Regions from separate parts of the Homo sapiens genome. Here regions 1, 3 and 4 are each linked to region 2. Evidence: fine-mapped expression QTL. A gene starts in region 2. Each other region holds a variant in brackets. All regions are shown on one strand. Distances are from middle to middle. Region 1 has its middle 72 kb from the start of SLC15A4. Region 2 holds the start of TMEM132C (transmembrane protein 132C). Region 3 overlaps TMEM132C (transmembrane protein 132C). Region 4 overlaps TMEM132C (transmembrane protein 132C).

What was found.
Region 1: its variant is fine-mapped to the expression of TMEM132C in whole blood (TOPMed, PIP 0.95).
Region 3: its variant is fine-mapped to the expression of TMEM132C in tibial nerve (GTEx, PIP above 0.99).
Region 4: its variant is fine-mapped to the expression of TMEM132C in whole blood (TOPMed, PIP above 0.99).

Annotation. Positions count from the first base shown.
Region 1 is chr12:128,749,705-128,754,852 of GRCh38, forward strand. No RefSeq gene overlaps it. Among named protein-coding and RNA genes, the nearest start is that of SLC15A4, 72 kb to the right of the region's middle. RefSeq lists an enhancer at 4,162-5,148. The variant G/C (reference allele first, on the strand shown) is at 2,089.
Region 2 is chr12:128,264,095-128,269,242 of GRCh38, forward strand. It overlaps TMEM132C (transmembrane protein 132C), which reads left to right and starts at 3,076. Exons shown (of 9, transcript NM_001136103.3): 1 at 3,076-3,393. The coding sequence starts at 3,309. LOC107987176 (a long non-coding RNA gene) reads right to left here and starts at 2,938. Exons shown (of 2, transcript XR_001749176.1): 1 at 2,477-2,938. RefSeq lists enhancers at 2,222-2,743, 3,279-4,117.
Region 3 is chr12:128,295,391-128,300,538 of GRCh38, forward strand. The region is part of intron 1 of TMEM132C (transmembrane protein 132C); the gene reads left to right. Among named protein-coding and RNA genes, the nearest start is that of MIR3612, 3.9 kb to the left of the region's middle. The variant G/A (reference allele first, on the strand shown) is at 2,884.
Region 4 is chr12:128,700,332-128,705,479 of GRCh38, forward strand. It overlaps TMEM132C (transmembrane protein 132C), which reads left to right. Exons shown (of 9, transcript NM_001136103.3): 9 at 4,759-5,148. Among named protein-coding and RNA genes, the nearest start is that of SLC15A4, 120 kb to the right of the region's middle. The variant C/T (reference allele first, on the strand shown) is at 2,276.

The sequences.
Region 1 (5,148 bases), 490 kb after region 2:
AAAACTTTTTAAAATATAATCCCTTAAAGTCAAAAATGTATCAGGAGTCACATAAATTTAAAGCTGTCAAATAAAGTCCATTGAGACCTGCCTGCTGTCTACTGACACATTTTGGTACCGTATTTTACCAGGTGGACAAAATTAGCCCCCAACAGTTGTCAGGAAAGTCTTGAATTAAATGTTGAAGTACACCCAGGTATTGGAAATGCATGTTTCCCCAAAGAGTAATTATGTTCAATTCTAACACAAATTCTTAAATACAGAAATTCTAGTGGCTGTTAAACATTTGACAAGATTTTCAATTGCGCTAAGGATGGGAGGGAAAAAATTATGACAAATAATTTGGGGCTTCTAGGGTTACCAAAGATTAAAACATGGCCAGGCGTGGTGGTTCATGCCTGTAATCCCAGCACATTAGGAGGCTGAAGCAGGAAGATGTCTTGAGGCGAGGAGTTCAAGACCAGCCTGGGCAACATAGTGAGACACCATCTCCACTTATATAAATATAAAAAATTAAAATGTAAAACATGATAATATTCCAGGCATATGCTGGACACTGTGGTCCTGTGAATGGATGTGACCAGTTTGGAGGGCAATTTAGAAATAGCCCCAAATGTCAAAGGAAAACCTCAGCTCGCAATTCTACTCTAACAATATGAAATGGTATTTGAACACATGTAGTCTTCCCAACCAGGGGTGCTCACGTGAATCACGGAACATAGAAAGTGGCTTGAGAGACTATTTTATCAATTCTCTCGAGGGTGGTTACATAACTAACACCTTTCTAGACCCCTGGGAGAAAAGTTCATTCCTTACATACAATGGATGGCTCAGGGCAAGAGAGTGTAATTCTCTTGGGAACACTGGTTGAGAAAACTGTAGATGTCTAGGAATTCATTGTCACCTTGTTTGTGATGCTGAAAAATGGGAAATGACTGATGTAAATGCTTAGCCAAAGGGATAAAGACAGAATGCTACATTCATATAATGGATTAGGAAGCAGCTGGTGACTATGTGAGTATATATGGATATATACTGATCCATTAATACTTCCATGATAAGTCGATAAATTTAAAAGAAAGTTATACCCACTAATATGACTTTATTTGAAAAGACATATCAGCGGGGTGGCTCTCACCTGTAATCCCAGCACTTTTGGATGCCAAGGCAAGAGGATCGCTTGAGCCCAGGAGTTTGAGACCAGCCTGGGCAAGATGGTAAGACCATCTCTATAATTAATAAATTAATTAAAAGATCCCAGCAAGTGTTGGTGAGAATCTGGAGAAATTGGGATGCTCACGCACAGCTTAATGGAAACGTAACATGCAGTTTGTTGCTGCTGTGGAAAACAGCCCAGCGGTTCCTCAAAAGTTTTCCATATGGCCCAGCAGTTTCACTCCTAGGTATAAACCCAACGGAAATGAAAATATATATCCACATAAAAGCCTGTACACGAAAGTTCACAGCAGCATTACTGACAATAGCCAAAGAGTGAAAACAACGCAAGTGCCCTTCAACTGATGAATGGATCAGCAAAAAGTGGGGTATCCATACAACAGAACATGACTCAGCCATAAAAACAAATGAAGCACTGGTACATGCCACAATGTGGATGAGCCTCGAAGACGTGAGATATGGGATGCCAGACACAAAAGGCTGCGTAGTTTACAATTCCATTCATATAAAATATAAAGAATATGCAAATCCAGGAGATTAGCGCTTGCCAGGGGCTGGGAGAGGGGAAATGGGGAAGGGGTAATGGGCAAGGGGTTTCCTTCTAGGGTGATGAAATGTTCGTTGATTGTGATGACTGTATAGCTTTGTGAATATGCTTAAAACCATTGAATTGTATACTTTAAATGGGTAAAATGTGTGATATATAAATTATATCTCAATAAAGCTGTTGCCAAAAAAAAAAAAAAAAGAAAGAAAGTTATGGGTGAAACAGGATTTGATTTTTTTTTTCTTTTTTGAGACAGGGACTCACTCTGTCACTCAGGCTGGAGTACAGTGGCATGATCACAGCTCACTGCAGCCTCAAACTCCCAGGATCAAGCAATTCTCCCACCTTAGCCTCCCAAGTAGCTG[G/C]GACTGCAAGTGCATGCCACCACGCCAGCTAATTTATTTATCTTTTGTGAAGATGGGGTCTTGCTATGTTGCCCAGGCTGGTCTCGAATGCCTCAGCCTCCCAGAACACTGGGACTACAGGGATTATAGTGAGCCACTGTGCCACGTCCTGTATTTGCCTTTTAAAAAATCCAAGGGTGGAGGTTTAGCAGGAAGGGTTTAGGGTTGGCTCTATGATAAAAACTGCTGAAACTGTGTTCTTAAGTGAGGAACACAGGAGAGCTCATGATAGACTTCTCTCTACCTTTGTATCTAACAATTTCCAAAACAGAAAAATTTTTTAAGTGAGATATGGCAGATAAAAGTAGCTCGGCAGAACACTGACAAGAGTTAAAGCTCAGTGGGTGAACATCATCATACTCTTCTCTCTACTTTTGTGTAGGTGTAAAAAATTTAGTTATACCAAGATTTTTTTCAAGTTAGATGAATAACAATATAAAGATTATAATCCCATTTGAGTTAAAACAATAATGCATTTTATACACACACTGATGTATATGTGCCAGGAAGATGACAAGCAACTCTCAGTGGCTGTCTCTTGGTGGGCTGCGGTGAGGAATGGCTTTGCTTCTACTTGATATATATATATTTTTAATGGTTTGTGTTTTTACAGCAAGCAGGTATTGTATGCAAAGAAAACATGGAAATAGGTATTTTTTTTAAATTCCACCAATTCTTCCTCATCTCAGTGTCCTCAGCTAGGCCACAGGAGTCCCACCCACCAGGCAAAGCTACTGGGAGGTTTAAGGCATTCACACCTCTGGGCCAGCCCCGGAGACACTTAGCTAAGAGACCACACTACAATTCGAATTCCCTTCTCCTTCCTTCACAGAGTCCTTAATGGCTGGCTATGATTTCAACGCTGGTGAATTACCGGCTATTGGCCCATGTATCTTGCCACCATTTTTCTTCGTTGTGATATATTCTTTTGGCCCTAGGCCTGAAAATGCTTCTTATAGGTGTGCACCACGTGCATCCATTACAGAATGGCTTGGCGAGTCACAGCGTGGGGGATGTGTCAGCTCTGGAGCACCGAATGGTTCTCCAGAGGTCTGCAAATTATTACTCTCCCCAACGTGTTTGCCCTTCTCCAAGTGAACACCCCTGAGTAGACAGGCTCTGACCTCCAAAGGTTTGCTAGACATGCTAGAAACAACTGAGAACGTGCCACGGGCTGTCACGAAGCCCAGGGCCTCAGCGTTAGTTTGGATAGGACTACCCCTTGCAACCAGGGTCTCATCCAGGTGATTTGAGGCAGGGTCTCTCTCTCTTCCCCCATTACCCAGACAAAATGTTGCCAATAAAGACGTTTCTAGTCACGTGGAGGACAGACACCACCACAGCATAAAAGGATTACAGGCTGCACCCTCCACTGCCAAACAGAGTTTTGAAAATGAAGGACATTTTTGTGAAAAGAAAGACTTTGTCAAGGCTTATGGCAAAACAAGCTTAAATAACCCTGTAATTCATTCCCACCCAGGACCCTGGAATTAAAGTAAATGCACGGGTAGTCAGTAGGGAGTGAGGCCTCCCCCGTCCCTGTTAACACACATCGAGAGGGAATGGAGCTGGGGAAACCTTTCCCACCTAAAGCAAAACCAGTTTCTTTACCAAGTAAGAAAACTTCCTTTGTCTTCCATTGTCAATTTTGTCAATTTTGCCAGAAGCAAAAAGAAGAATTTTTTTGTTGTTGGTATGCAACAGCAAAAAGAACATTGCTTTGCAAAAGCCTGGAATCAAAATATGTGAAGCTGGGGAAAGAAGCAGTTGTCCCCGTGGCTTCATGAAAGTGCAGAGAGCTGGTGGAGCTGGACTGAGCTGGATTTGAGTCCCTGGCCTGCCCCCTGTGGCAACGAGACATGCCCTGGCCCAGACAAGCTTTTAACTCAGTGCCTGTTCAGGTTCTTTGGTCATTCGACATTGTTTTTAATAGGAGGAGGGAAACAAACTGATTTTCCTATTCATTCATTCATTCATCCACCCATTCATTCATTCGAGAAGCATTCTATGTGCAAAGTTCAGTTCTAGGCAAGGTAGAAGCTGCAATTAATAAAACAAGCAAACTCCTGAAGTCATGGATCTTCAATTTTACTAGAGAAAGATAGAGAATAAGGAAGCAAATAAATAACTGATACTACCCATAAAAAGTTATGAGGCTATGCTGCAATGTGGAAGAAATTTGAAAGCATTACACTAAGTGAAAGAAGCTAGTCGCCAAAAAAAAAAAAAAAAAAACCCACATATTGAATGACACCATTTATATGAACCGCCAAAGACATGCAAATCCAGAGAGACAGAAAGTAGATTCATGGTTTTCAGGGACTGGGAAGGGAGAAACAGGGAGTGGCTGTTCATAGGCACTGAGCTTCCTTCTTGGGTGATGAAAATGGTTCTAAAATTGATGAATTGGTGAAATAGATGAGCTGTGATGTCTGAGTTATGTCTGGATGAAGCTGTTGAGCAAGAGTTAGGATGGTAGCTGTGTAAGTTATCACTGGGTCACCTGCTGTCCCAAGGTGTAGTGACTCGGCAACACATGCTCATTATTGATCCTGAGAATATGGGTCAGTTGGGTGGCTCGGTGGATCTTGGCTGGTTGCTCACAGTCCAGTCATCTGGAGAGATGGCTGAGTAACCCAGGATGGGCTCACTCACATGCCTGCTGGGTGACTTGCTGTCTGCTGGGGCAAATGGGGTTACTAGGTCCATGTGTCATTGTCCCCAGGCCAGTCTGGGCTTGTTCATATGACAACCCCCAGAGTCTGAGAAATGTCAGCGGTGTGTAAGGTTTCTGGAGGCCTCAGAACAGACACAGCATCACTTCTGCCCCCTCCTCTAGGACAAAGCAAGTCACAAGGCCAGCTCTGAGACAAGAGGTGTAGATTATTTTTCAACACCTTTATTAAGATGTTGTATTAGTCCTTTCTCACACTGCTCTAAGGGCATACCTGAGACTGGGTAATTTATAAAGGAAAGAGATTTACTTGACTTACAGTTCTGCAGGGATGGGGAGACCTCAGG
Region 2 (5,148 bases):
TGACACCTATTTGTTAAATGAATGAATGAATGAATAAAATGTCCAAGGATAATAATAATACACCCCACGAGTGTGAAGAGGATTAAATCAGATAGTGCCTATATGTTTTAAGAACAATGACAGGACACAGAACTAAGCATAGACCTTTCTATCATTTTTCTCCCTTTTTTCCTTCTTCCTCATTTTTTAATCGCTAATAGTAAGCACCATAGTCAGGACTTGATACTCAGTTTGCGGGATGACCATAGCTGTTTCATGAGGCCAACATATAGCCTTTCTTTTCCATGTCCTCGGCAATATATACCCATATGTCCCGTCTACAGGTAGACAATGCAAGAAGCCTTTGAACTAAAATCACAAGTTCCACCCCTCATTTTATGCGATATTCACAATTTAACATTTAAGCATGAACAAAACAATCTGAAGTTGCCTCATTGACTTAGGAACCCTGAAACCCTGTGGAAGCAGCAGGTTTCCTCTTTCCAATCATTCTCCTCTCCCATAAATTATGTTAAGTGCTTCCATGTGCCCACAGTCCTTAAGGAATTCTGCAACAGCCTTTGAGGAGATTAGAAGCCTCTGATGTTCCTTATGAAATTCAGAAAACCATCTGGAAGTAATCTAAGTTAAGGAATTAATGATTTGGGGGTTAAATGATACATGACTTAAAAAAAATAAATACAGAAAACTTTATTAGCCCATGAACCTCAATTTTTGTGGATTTACCTATGAAAGAGAAATTGACTATATCATCTGTTTTATTTGTTTGTTCAGTTTTGTGTGCATGTTTGTTTGACTGCTCTTGAGAGGGACACGCAATAGATTAAATGGAGTCCTAAAGGAAGGTTTGCAGAGAAGCTTTCATTTGCTGGGTCTCCTGAAGGCTCTCACAGGGGATGCCCGGAGGCATCATAGTCTCAAGGGGCATCTGTGATTCAGGATCACCTGAAGACAGTGGCTGCCTTTGGGGTGCTGTGCAGTGAGCTTATCTGATTGAGAATCCTTTCCCCACTCCAACCCCATGTTGAATTAGTATTTATTTTGCTGTGGCTTGTTTGGTAGCCCCTGGTTTTGATTATTTGCATCACAGAGATGTAGTCCAGGACCTGACTTGTCTTTGCAGTAGGGACAGCAATGTTCTGTGCCAAAAGGAAAGAAATGATGTGGAAAGAAGGTACATTATGAGGCTGCATAGAACAGGGGAGTGGAGGGCACTTCTTTGGGTTTTTATTTTTTGTCCCTGTTATCCAATAGGGAGGAGAGAGGATAAGGCAGATTCCCATCCTCAGTTACAAACAATGGGACATGTGTATTTCTCCCTCATGCTGGGAACATTTAAATGAAAAAAAAATTATTCCCCGGTGATGTTCAGGCTCAAAGCACTGAGAATAAAACGTACCTTCCGTTTTAGGAGCCCAAATCTACTTTACAACTGCCCCCTGCCCCCAAGGTCAGGTCTACACTAGCTGAATGTACTGAAGAATTGGGCGATTATCAGCATAATCCACTTTAAAAATCAAGTCTCTGCTATCCAGGCCTATGAGAATCAAGCTTTTACCGTTCCCTTTGGGGCCTGGATAGTTTTCAAGCTGCCTTCTCCTCACATCATGTGAGTAGAGCCGGCCAAGAAAACCAGGGAGACATCTCCCCCCAGCCTGGCCCAGACTTCCGGGCCCCACCCCAGGAGAGAGCCTCCCACTCTGGCCAGTGCCCTGCAAAGCCTTCGCCCCACCCCGCCCCAATTTCTCCTTATGCCTGGCTCATTCCTTAGGGGCTGAGTTGGGAGATAAGACTTGGGGTTGCAGTTGCTGGGGATCATTCGTTTACATTTCTTTTCTTTCAATCAAGGACTTCTTTTTTTCTTTTGAAATTCTTTCCTGCACTGATGGTGAGAAAAGACCCCTCAGGCTTCCTTTTGATGTTGGACCGAGCCAGCCCACGGTGAGAGGGGATGCTGAGCCCGTGGTGAGGAGCTCAGGACAGGAGGGGACGTCCAGAGACCTCCGAACCCATGGCCCTTCATTCCCAGTCACAAGGGGGGAGTCGGGGTCCCGCCCTCAAACTGCTCAGACCACGCGTGGCAGAAAGAGCAGAGCATGAGCATCAGGAACCGCACAGGGAAGCCGCTGAGATCACCTGGGATCACCACCATGAGGGAGGCCAGCCCTGGAGAAATCAGAGGGAAAAGATAGAGAGAACGAAGTCGGGGGGGGGGGGGGGAGGGCGGATCTTCCTTGTCTGAGTCTGCAGAGAAATTGCCTATTGCAGGAGCAAGTCTAGAGAGGGGCTATTCTCCACCCACTGAAAAGATAATAAAACACATGCTATGGGCGGCGGGGAGATGATTGGGGAGTGGAAGCCCCACAGACATGCAGTGAAAAATGATCCTTTCTTCCCCTCTGCGTTCTCGTCCCCTTCCCAGAGACACCGCTGTGATCTCGTGCCTCGCCCCCTCCGCACACGCACAGGTGCACACCCGCATCTGTCTTGAGCCCGCACCCCGCCTTCACGCTCCGCTGCGCGCTGCTTTTCCGCGCTCAGTGATCCAGTTAGGAGCTCTCCCCGCAGCAGCTGCGCGGGACTTTGCATTCCAGATGTCCCCAGCCCTCCAGGCTAAAGCAGCGGCCACCTGAAGTTGAGGAATGGGGCGTGACGACCACCAGGTCCCGCAGTGACCACGGGAGGGTGGGGAGAAGGAGTCCAGCTCCGCCTTGAGCGTCGGGTCCCTGGGCAGGACCCTCCGGGCCACGGGCCGCTGTCCGTTGGGCACCCGGGCAGGAGTCTGCGAACGCTGAGTTTCTCTGGAAAGGCGCGGACCCCCGGAGGAGCCGTCCCAGCCGCCTGGGGAGACGCCCCCTCCTCTCCCGGTCTTCTTTCCCGGGCACACCCTCCCTAGCCCGGGCGGGGGGGTTCTCCATCTGCCGCCCCTCCCGGCGGGCAGGCGAACTCTCTCCTACCGCACCCTCAATCTGTCCGCGGTCGCGGGGCTCGGCGGGGGCGGGGCCCGGGCGGGGGCGGGGGCGGGGCCGGGGGCGGGGCGGGCCGGCGGCTGCGGAGGCTGCGGAGGCTGCGGGAGAAAAGTTGTCCCGGCCGGAGCGCGAGCAGCGGCGGAGCCGGAGCCGCCAGAGCCAGAGCCGGAGCTGCGGCGGCGTGGACCCGGCAGGGGCGGGCCTCGGACAGCAGAGACGCAGCGGGCCCGGCCGACCGGGCTGCGGGAGTGGCCCCGGGCATGGGGCGGCCGGCGGGGGCCGCGGGCGGGCGCTGCGCTTCGGGCTGGCGGCGGGCTGCGTGAGCGGCCGGGACGCAGGATGCGCTCCGAGGGTGCGGCCCCCGGGCCGGCGGCGCCGCTGTGCGGGGCGCTGAGCCTGCTGCTGGGCGCGCTGCTGGGCAAAGGTAAGGCCGGGGCGGGTGCCTGGCGCGCCGACGCATGCGAACTTCCCGGTTCCGGGGGAGCTCGGGGTGAGGGCAGCCGAAGCGAGGGGTGCGGCGGGGGCCTCGGCGGGGGCTCGGATCCCATCAACAGCGCCTCTGCGGGTGCCGAGCCGCCCCTAATCCAGAAGGGCGCTCCCAGCTGGGCGCCGGGATCCGGGCAAGTTAGGCTGGTCCCGAGTCCCGAATCTCCCACCCCGGACCCCCCAGACCCAGAGCTGCCCCGCGGATGAGGAGGGGGCGTGGCTGAGGGACACGGTGTTTGTTCCCCATCCCTGAGTTCCGTGCGGACCTGCCCCAGCCCCAGCACAGTCACCCTGTGGAACTGGCATCCAGGAGAGGTGCTCCGCTCTGTGCGCTCCTTCCTCCCGGCTGTGTGCTCCCTGTCCACAGCTCCCCATCCACAGCTTCGGCACTGTGGGGCTGGTGCTCCAGGAGGGAAGGCCCGGTTCTTTGCATCCCCTTTCCGCAACCGCTAGGGTCTCTGTGCGGGCCCTAGAGGAACGCTCACTCATCGCGCAGCTCACCAGGGACCCCAGCTTGGCAGAAACCAGGGGCTCTCTGCGGGTTCTCTCAAATGAGTCCTTTGCGGTGGGGGAGCGCGGATGGGGAGGTGGGTGCGTCCCTCGCGACGGGAACTACCTCACCAGCGGTCCTGTCCGGGGCTCCTTCACCTCAGTGTCCTCTTCTCTACAATGGGAGTGACGGCCCTGCTTTGGGTTGGAGGAATTTAAAGGAGTTAACGTATGGCGCCCGCAGGGCTCACGAAAGGTAGCCGTGTGGTTTTTCCGACCTTTTTTATTATGTGCGTGTGCGGCCGAGTGGCCGCGCGGATGCGGCGGCGGGAAGGGCGGGGAGAGGCGGTCTCCAGCCCCAGGAGCCGCGGGGCAGGCGGGGAGCAAGGCCTAGGCTCTGCCAGGGCAGCAGCTGCCCGAGTCCCGGGGCGCGCCCAGGGCGTAGAAAAAGGAGAGCGTCGCTTTCCTGCTCCCCGCGCCCTGGCGAAGGTCTCGGGTTCATTTGGTTAAACGGAGGTGCGCACATGGGTGCCCTGAGCCTTCGCGCGGCGCCGCGGGTCCAGTATCGGCCCCAGGCTCTGAGCAGAGAACACTCAAAGCCACCCTTCTCCCGCCTAATGCTCTGAGGCTGAGCTAGAAATGCGTTCAGAGAGACAAGTTGTCAATGGAGGTTTAAAAGTAGCGTTTGCTTTTCAAAAGTCATTCTGCACCGCCTGAAAATCCAGAAAAATCTACTTTCCTTGAGGCTGCGCTTTCCCAGATACACCAACCAGACAAGTTTGCTATGTTTTATATAAGTGTTCCTTTCTTCCAAGAGCTCCAGGTAGGGAGGAGGGTGGGGTGAGAGAGGGGGGGGAAGAAGGAGTGAGAGAAGAGGGAAAGAGAGGGTGGGGCGAGAGAGGGGGGAAAGGGGGTGAGAGACGAGGGAAAGGGGGGGCAAGTCGGGGGTGGAGGAGTAGGAGAGGGGGGCACTTTTCTATTTTATTTGAAAGAGTCAACAGTCACGATCTGGTGCCTGAATTCTGCTGTTAATTAGCTCTAGGTTCCAGCGTTTCTAGGATTCAGTTTTCCTAGATGCAAAGTGGCCATTGAAGAATTCCCTTCCCAACCTACCTCCCAGCAGTTTTTTGTTGATAAAATGACTGAATGGGTAGTAAAGCACTTTGCAGAGGAAGGCGGTGCTAATTGAGCAGGGCGTGACCGA
Region 3 (5,148 bases), 31 kb after region 2:
TCATTCCCTCTCAGCCTCAGACCTACTTGAGGGGAAGGCAGTTCCATCCCCATTTTACAGATGAGAAAACTGAGACGTGTAGGGTCACATGGAAAATAAATAATGACCGCCTTGAAACTGTGATGTCCAGGGCGTCCTGTCTGTAACAGCCTGCTACCTTCCACCCCCTCCCCTGGGTATGCTTTCATTCCTTACCCGACTTCTTAGACTTGCCCTCCAATGTTACTGATGTGCCTTTTAAGTCCTTCAAAAAAAAAAAAAAAAAGAAAGAAAAAAGGGTGGGGTACAACCTGAAGAAAGAAGAAAAATAAGAGCCCCACATAAAATTCTGCTCAGTGATCAGAGACCAGTCCAGTCATAGATTTCAGTTTTAAGCACCAATTAAAAAAAAAAAACCTTAAAAATTTCTCCTATTTCCTTCTTGATCCTTGTAGAATATTGTACTTTTCAGACCATATTTAGTTGTACATTCCTCTGTCTTTCTCTCTGCTCTGTCATTTCTTGAAGACATGGGCCTTTCCTTATTACCTTCCATATCTTCAGGTTGTAATGGGATATTCAACACATAATAAGCAGTGAAATGCATCTTGCAAGAATGAGTGAACATTGGTTTTCTCTGTACCTCCCCTTGCCTCCCTTTCTTCCTAGTGTCCAAGTCCCTTTGTCTCTCTTTGTCCCCTATATTTACTGAAGTAGCACCCTTGTTTTGAGAGTATTTGTTGATTTGAGATGCAAAGCTTTTGGCCTGATGCCTGAACCCAGGAGACAGGACTCAGGGCCTATCCAGCATTGAGACCTGAGTTTCCCAATCATTGGAGGTTCACGTTTTATAATTAGGATGCTTTGGGCTGCAAGTAATAACAACACGAATACAGTCTGCCTTAAATGGTAAGGAAACATATTATCTTAAAAAGCAACTCCAGAAGTAGGGTGGTTTCCAGGTTAATTGATGCAGTGGCTTATTGCTCCCCTTAATGATCAAAGTCTTTCTGTCTCTCTAATGACATCCTGGCTTCACCCCAAGACTGGTTGTTCTCATGGTCACAGGAGAGATGACACTGGTATTTAGGGTACACAGTTTATATGTTTATGGCTAGAAGGAGTGGCCAGCTTTACAGAGGCTTCTCTCAAAAACAAAGGAGGGCCAGCCCAGCCATTAATTTCCTCTCTGTCTTTCCTCTCTGTCTTTCTGGTCATATTTAGAGCACAGAGCCATTCTGTAGCCAGTCACTAGAAAGGGAGCTGGATTCGCCTTAAAGGGATAGATAGAACAACACTTGGACCTGAGAATGGAAGTTGTCCTCCGTCAGGTTCATGACTGTGAGTGTCATGAGGAAGAAGATGGGGCAATAAAGTCAAGAGTAGGCAAGAAATTCATGTTTTCCTTTAAATTGATGCATTTCTTTAATTTAGCAAAACTATTTTTAAAACATCAGGGTTTGATATACTATAAGTGTTTTCTTCTAACCAGCATTAAAATAAATATATGATAATATAAATAAAAGATATTTATCTCTGTACCATTTTGGGAATTGCTAGATTTAGACTAGACTTCCCAAACTGCATATTTCACCAAAACACACCCCGTGATCTTTGGACAAAATAAATCCCAGGTTTTTATGGATGTAGGAAATACAGCTGTAATTCCGTCAAATGGTCTTTTTTTTTTCTTAATTGCAAAGTGCATATGTAAGTTTTCCCCTTTTTAAACTTTCATGATTCAATAGAAAGCAGCAAGGGTCTGTTTTTAGGGGCTGGACTGGCCATCTTTTCAGTTGGTGCTGGCTTGAAATGAAGAGCAACAAATAGAATAAATAACTGCAGTGAAGGGGATAATATGGTATTGACTGCTTGGCTCTGGTTAATTTTCTGTGCTGTGAACACCATGCAGAAGTTGGGCTGGACGTGATGGCCTCCTGCCGATAGGAGGCCAGTGGCTGTGAATATTGTACGTTTGTAAACTCAGAAGGGGTTTAGTGTGCAGCCAGATTCATTTAAAGTCATAAATGGATTATTGGATTACTCCTTGGTCATGCGTCTAAGTAATTTACGGGTGCTATCATGGCTCCGGGTCTCTAATAAGCTTCGCCCTCCTTGGGATAGTGACTGTCTTGCCTTAACTGATGTTGAATCTTTCCCACTTAGTCTCTCCTGCTTAGGGTTAACATTTAACCAAGGCCTGCAAAAGCTGGCTTTGAAGGCACTCGACTTGAACTGAGAAGGTCTGACTTTAATTCTGACCCTTCACCCCCAAATCTTTTCAGAGAGTGTAGCAGTGTCTCCTGGTGGGCACAGTTCTTTTCCTTTTTCCAGGATTTGGTATCTCTTCTGAACTTTTTCCTTCTGACACCCACATGATTTTAAGCAAAAACTCTATAATTTTTCAAAAAAAAGTTAAAACCCAATCATTTACCTCCTTAGAGACCCCAAGCACTGAAAATAAATTATGGGGCCCTGCTCAACCTGTCTACAATTCACAATTAAAATAGTACTTAGCCATAAAGCAAATGGAAGAAAACCCAACAAAATATTTGTTTTCTCATGATGATGACTTCAATATCAAATGATTTACAAAAATATTCCCTCCTTCATGTTAGTTTCCCTGTTTTGCTTTTGTTTGGTGTGACAGCCTGTGGGGTAATCTCACCCCGCCTTTAGCTATGAATGTAGCTTTAAAGGTTACAAAGCATTTTCCTCTTTTTATCCCATTTTATCTCCTCTCCTTCTGCCCAGTACAGGTTCAGGATGTTGCCAGAGAGCACCTGTGAGAATGCACATCTAATCATGTTATTCCCTTGCTTAAGACCCCAGTGCGGCTCCCATTGTTCCAGAAACTAACCCATGACCCTCTGTGGTGGAGCTCCCCAGGCTCTCCAGCCTCAG[G/A]TTCTCCCGCCCTCTCCTCCCCCGGGCCATGTGCATTGTGTTTTGTTGAATGTGTTCCTTCCGAAAGGGCAACTGGTACAGCGCAAAATGTTCTTCCTACAGGGCAATTGTTATGTTGATTTTTTTGTCTGTTTATTTGTTTTAACTTTTTTTTTTAAATAGAGACTCACAGGAAGTTGCATAAAATAGTACAGAGAGCCCCAAGTCCCCTTCACCCAGCTCTCCCTGGTGATTGCATCTCACGTAACTACGGTACGTACGACTCACAGCCAGGAAACCAGCATCGGCAGGTGCCTGCATAATTCTTTGCCATTGCATCCTGTGGGTAACTGCCTGCAGCCACTGCTCTGAAGACACTAAACTGTGCCATCAGAGCCTCCCTCCTGCTACCTCTGTATCCTCACAGGAAGACATTTCTTTGGGGGAAGAAAACGAACTTTGCAGATGAGGCTGGAGTTGTCTTTGATCCACATCTACTCATGCTGAGGACCTCAGCTGCCTTCTTTGGGGGAATGTTTTTCCCCAGTGGGGAGTGGACCAAGGTCGCTGGTAGAGCACCTTGTACCTGTCCTGCACAGCATTTCCCTGGATTGCAGATATGTGCTCATACATGTTGTCCCCATTTAACTTGAAGTTCCATGAAAACAGGGGTGTTTTTTCTCTTTTATTTGGTTGTATGTACTATCATTTCCCCAGTGTGGTATTGGATTTTTCATACAGTGTTGGTATTTAACGCTGAGAGCAACAGCACATGTGTGTGGGATGAATGTGATAACTTCCTCACGGTGGCTTACGGTAGGATTAGTATGAAAATCCATGTATCCTGACCCTGAGCCCTGTGTTCAACCTTTACCTTTTAACCATCACTCTGGAGCTTGGAAGGTGATAAATTTTCTGAAAACTCAAAATTGTACTAGAGATATTGGTCATGAGACTCACTGTCCCAGGGGCTCTGTGCTGCCTTGGAGCCCTAATTGTTAGGCAGCCATGTTTCATACCATGCAATTTCCATCTTCTACACTGAATCCATGTTTGAGTCAACCACAAGAAACACCTGATCCCTGGGTGGTTAATGTATACCTGGATGCCTGGTTTTGAAAAGATGAGCTGGTCTCATTAGATGAGCTGGTCCATGAGATTTTGAGTTAAGCAATGTACACGGAATTCACCAGCTATTGATGGCATGGCTACTGAGATGCTCTTAGAAAGACAGAGCTGATGGTGCCAGTTCAGAGGACCCAGATGAGAACCAGAGACAAGCGAGACAGTAACACACAGAGTAAAACAGAGATGTGAGAGAATAGATGTTGTCTTCCTCTCAAGCAATGGGAGAAAATCAAATTTGAAATTTGAAAACAATTCCAGATTGTTTTTCGTATAGAGAGAACTTTGGTAGAAGGTTGGAGAGAATCAGGCAAGGGTGTATAGCTTGGTCACCTTAAGGTAAAGGTTTGTGAAAATCCTGCTGCCGAGGGTCTCTAAAGCTGCATGCAGCCCAGGTTCTTCCTTTCCTCCAGGTCTTCACTCTATGAAATGTGGTCCCTACCTCTCACCCCTACACGTGATTGCAGGTGGGTTCACATAACTCTAAGATGTTAGCACTGAGCTGGGTAGGCACATCCCACATCCCACACCAGGAAGAGACCAGGAGTTAGGTGCCAGTGGAACCGGGGCAGGATGCCCACATTTAAATAATTCCGTCAGTGTAGTCTAGACACAGTCGGCCAGTGTTCAATACTAGACTAGACACAATAAGAAATACAAAACTCAAGACAGGTAAGAGCAAGAGTAAACATGTTTGGGCAAATCCATGATCAAAGCAGGTGGTGCTTTAAGGAGATAGCCATAAGCGTAAGCCAAAGTCTGCGGGGTGGCTCCAGTGACTTTTTGTTCCCTGGGATTGGGCTTCTTTTGAAGTCCTCTAAGCAGTTTTTTACTGGCTTTAAAAGAGAAACCGCTGTGATGAAAGACTGGGAGAAGTCCTCTGTTCTTCCTCCTGGGGTTATTGCTGGCAACAGGAAGGTGGAAGAGCTTACAGAGTGTTGGCTCAGGTTCCAGCCTCATGAACTTATCTCCTTGAGCCTGGGACCTTCCTGAAAAGCAGAGTTCATGGTTTTTCTCATTTGAAGGAGGCATTATGATGGGAGAGAGAAAGGGGTCTCTTCCGTGTGTCCTTGTGCTTCCTGCATTTTTTCTTCTGTGAAGAAAGTTTTTCACAGCATAGTTGTGGTGGGCACTCTTGAGTGTGTTTGCCTGAGTTACAGT
Region 4 (5,148 bases), 440 kb after region 2:
TGATGAAACACTACATTCCAGCCTCTCTGTAATGAGCTTATGGTAGAAGTTAGTCTCAATCATGCAGCAGGGCTGATGGAGATGGATCTTGGCAAGTCAACGGTGTTCTGAGGCTTTAATTCCGATTGTCTGCTGTTCAGGGGCTTTTTTATGTTAACTTCTTTCCCCATCTAGTTTGTGAAGAAAAATTATTCAAGAGGAAATGTCAGCCACGATGAACTTGCACACTGTTCAGTCTTTTATCTCACCCCTTAGAGTGTAGAAGGCTGGCACCTTGTTCATGATATTTTCAACTTTGAAATAGAAAATCTGAATGGTTTTTACACCTACAAATAGAGGGTAGTAGCCTGCATGTTCTCCCAAGCCTTGTTTGCTCTAAAGAAAGTAGGATCGAAAAATGAAAGGAGAAATCACTTGGTATTTGTGCATGAGGTTGAGGCATTAGAAGGACTTATTGGATTGTGTGATTCATCAGCTGATATGGACAGAGGAGACGAGGGTGAGCACCAACATCGCTGAGCCATCTCTTCTGTCTTAGTTTTGGTCTGCTCAGAAGCTGAGCCTGAGACAAGGATTCAGGTGCAAGTAGTTTATTCAGGTGGTGAAGACAATACCAGTAGAGAAGTCGGGGGTGATGGAAGGAAGAGAAATGCAACCAGTAGAGTGTATTACCAACTCAGCCGCCGCCAAGGGCAGCCGGAGCTCCTGTCTGCTGGGCGACTGTATGCCGGTCTAGAAAGGCCAGAAGAGTTACTGCACTTGAGGGGCAAGGGATCTGGGATAAATATAACAACTTCCATGAGTCCTTCATTGAGGGCTGCCCACAGCATTTATTAACTCCTTGGCACATCTTGCTGTAGGCACAACCACATGGATTCCAGAAGCCAGAGAGTGACCTTGGGCAAAAAATAAGTTAAAAAAAAAAAAAAGCAAAGTTGATCATTGAAAGTTGAGCTAGCAGGAGCTGAATGGGCAGCCACCCAAAGAGAACTCCACACCCTCCTAAAACTTCCTACACAGGCTCACCCCTCAGAGCCAGCTGGTGTTGGCCAGGGCTTACCAACACAAGTGATATGACCCAATCCAACTCAACCTGCCTTCACACACAGCAGAATGTATCAGTTCATGTCCAAGCATTTGGATCTTCAGCTACAGCTACATGTAGATGCTCAAACGATGTCATCAGAATTCTTTTTTTAATTGCTAGCATTCTTCCTTGGTCCTGCGGGATGTAGAGTCATCATTGCTGTGAACACTGGCTGCTCCCAGGCTACTCCAATTTTTCCTTCTGGAATTCCTACCAAACAAGCGTTGGACATTCTCATTCTCTCCTTTATGTCTGTTCACCTGCCCTTCACAGTTTTATTTCTTGATATGCCTGTGGTTCTATTTGGGGTAACGTGGGTGGCTTTGTCTCCCACTGCAGTAATTCTCTCCTTGAACATGTCTCATCTGCTGTTCGAACCACCCATTGAGTCACTGATTTCAGTGACTGTGTTTTTCATTTCTAGAAATTCTACGTGGCTCTTTGCACCCCTTCCTGCTCTGCTTCCATTCGCTTCTTCTTCTTTTTTTTTTTTTTTTTTGAGACAGAGTCTTGCTCTGTCACCCCAGCTGGAGTGCAGTGGTGTGATCTTGGCTCACTGCAACCTCTTCCTCCCAGGTTCAAGCAATTCTCCTGCCTCAGCCTCCTGAGTAGCTAGGACTACAGGCACCCACCACCATGCTCTGCTAATTTTTGTATTTTTTGTAGAGATGGGGTTTCCTCATGTTGGCCAGGCTGGTCTTGAACTCCTGACCTCAGGTGATCCGCCCACCTCGGCCTCCCAAAGTGCTGGGATTACAGGCATAAGCCACCACATCTGGCCCCCATTTGCTGTTATTGAGACAATTTCAACTCCTTTTAATGTCTCTTTAATTTTTTAATTAAATTTTTAATTTCTTTTTAATTTTATTTCATAGACTATTTTTGTTGGTTCGTTTTATGTTATTTCATAAATAACATTTATTATGAAATTTATTTATTATGAAATGTATTATTATGAAATGTTATTATTTCATAAATAACATTATTTATTGTTTTATTTCATAGACTGTTGTTTTTTGTTGGTTTCCTTTAAGTTATAGCCTTTGGAGTCTTCTATGATCTCACATATCAGTCTGCTCACCTTCCTGTGTAAATGTTTAACACAACCACTCCCGGTGCAGCCTTGCCACCTACAGGTTGTAACTTTTCTTTCTTTGTATCATGAGCACCTCTTGAGCCCTGGTTGCT[C/T]GGCTTTGTTTTGTTCTGAAGGAGGTTGTATTTGCATTTGCACAGGTCCAACTTCAAGTGAGTTTCTTTTCTCCCAATTCGCATACCACAGAGGTAGTTATCCCACCCAAGTGTGGGCTTTTGGTTTTGAGTGGCGACATCTCCATCCAGTGCTCAGAGCGCACACAAGCTTTGCTGCTGTATCTCTGGCTCAGCAGGTAGGATTTTCCCATGCCCCGTCCATGGAGTGGGTGCTGCTACCTCCCTGGGCTGCAATGACAGTGTCCGGGATGGATGGGGACAAAGGTCCAGGAAGGCCACGAGGTCAGACCTGGTTTGCTGTGAAAAAGGCAGGGAGGAAAGGAGGCAGCTACTTGACTTTTTCAGCAGAGGGTGAGTCATCATGGTCTTTGTGGGGCTGATAAAATGGGCTCTGGCAGTGGTTGTTCTAGGGGGTCCCTAGCACAGTGGTCAAGAGCTCAGCTCTAAAGCCACAGCAGTTCCAGCCCTGATCCTGCCTCTTCCTAACGATATGACTGGACATATTTCTTTTTTTTATTTTTTTAACTTTTATTTTCACTTCAGGGGTACCTGTGCAGGTTTGTCATGTAGCTACACTTGTGTCATGGGGGTTGGTTGTACAGATTATTTCATGACCCAGGTATTAAGCCTAGTACCCATTAGTTATTATTCTTGATCCTCTCCCTGGTCCCACCCTCCACCCTCCAATAGGCCCCAGTGTGTGCTGTTCCCCTCTATCTGTCCATGTGTTCTCATCATTTAGCTCCCACTTAGAAGTGAGAACATGTAGTGTTGGGTTTTCTGTTTCTGTGTCAGTTTGCTAAGAATAATGGCCTCTAGCTCCATCTGGTCCCTGCAAAGGATGGGATCTTGTTCTTTTTATGGCTGCATAGTATTCCACGGTGTGTGTGTACCACATTTTCTTTATCCAGTTTATCATTAATGGTCTGGAGAGTTTTTCCTAGATGAATGGAGGAGGCTGAAATATGCAATTCTAAGCACAAAGTGGAGAGCCTGTATCCACTGGGCACTTGCTGTGGATCAGGTGCCATTTAGGTTGACTTTGTGTCTTCGCTATTGTGACTCCATGTCTTTGCTATTGTGAATAGTGCTGCGATGAACATATGCGTGCATGTGAGCACAGTTCTTAACCTCTCTTTGGGCAGGAAGCATAACCCAACCTACTTTGTGGAAGAGGAGAAAATGCGTTCTGTAATAACTGCGAACAACACCTGACCCACAGCGAGTGCCCAGTGGATATGGACTGTCTGTTTTATGATTAGGATTGCACATTTCACCCTCCTCTATTCATGGGAGTTCCCACTCTTGGAAGCAGAATAGAAGTACCCATGGCTAAGTCAAGAATAAGGCCTTCTGTGGGATTATGTTTGCTGTGGGCACACAAAGGGGAGAGGATGTCATTATTGCCCTGGGGAGGAGGCGAGACAGCAGGAAACCTTGTGCTCATGAGAATCTGCCAGTCACATAGGCATGGGTGTGAGTGGCATTTCTAGGCCAGTAGCTTCCCCTTTTTTTGGAATATTATTCAGCCATAAAAAGAATGAAATATTGCCATTTGCAGCAACATGGATGATCCTGGAAGACATTACTTTGAGTAAAATAAGCCAGGCACATAAAGTCAATTTTTTTTTACCAGTCCCCACAATGGCAAATAGTTTTTACATAGCTGTTGGGTCACTGACAGAAGTATAGTGAGTCTGCAAAATAAACTCAGCCCCTTCACACTGGCCCTTTGCTTCCTCTTTCACTCTGCTACCCATGCAGAGCAAGGGCAGCACAATTGAACCGGGCCCACCAGCCAATGCCATGTACTGTGTCCCACACATCACTGCCGCCCAACTACAGCCAAGCAAAGCATCTGCAATGGCTCAACAGGGTCAACCTTAAAGGGCAAAATGCTCTTGTTTTCTTGTTTCTCAGGCAAAGCTTAATTCACTGGGGGCAGTGCAGGGAGAAGAGGGGAGGTTCCTTTCTGATGTCATTGGTTCTGACAGTGTTTCCTGCCCATCAACCTTTGTCATCAGGCTGGATACAGACAACAGCTGTATCCATTCATCATACTTAGGCCACTAATCACAGAGTGTGTGACAAAATGACCAGGGCCTGCCCTAGAAGCCAGTCATTGTCTGTGAACATGCACCGGCTGACTGATTCAAGCAATACCTGTGTGGATAAAGCCACCCGGAGCCTCATCTCACTTAGGGATTTTTGTTTTGCCATTTGTTTGTTCTGGGTAAGGATTATGAGGGCACTGTTAGTCACATCCCCATTTGTTCTTGTTTAAATTAAGGTGGTTTCTCTGCCCCTGATAGAAAACCTGTATGATTTCTCCCCAGATGCATGAGCTACTGGGTCTGGATTTGAGGTCCTGCTCCCTGTTTCATTGGGCGTCCTCCTAGGAGGGGGTTTCTAAGGGAAAAGGCATCCCCCAGGTGGTCTTCTAACTGCCTGTGTCCCTGCAGGAGGCTGTATTCAGCACGTGGCTGCAGTTCAGTGATGGCTCTGTGACGCCCCTGGACATCTACGACACCAAGGACTTCTCCCTGGCAGCCACCTCCCAGGACGAGGCTGTCGTGTCAGTCCCCCAGCCCCGCTCTCCCAGGTGGCCCGTTGTGGTGGCCGAAGGGGAAGGCCAGGGCCCACTGATCCGAGTGGACATGACGATCGCCGAGGCCTGCCAGAAATCTAAACGCAAGAGCATCCTGGCTGTGGGCGTCGGCAACGTCAGGGTCAAGTTCGGACAGAACGATGCTGACTCCAGCCCCGGCGGGGACTATGAGGAAGATGAGATCAAGAACCACGCCAGCGACCGCCGGCAGAAGGGCCAGCACCATGAGCGCACAGGCCAAGAT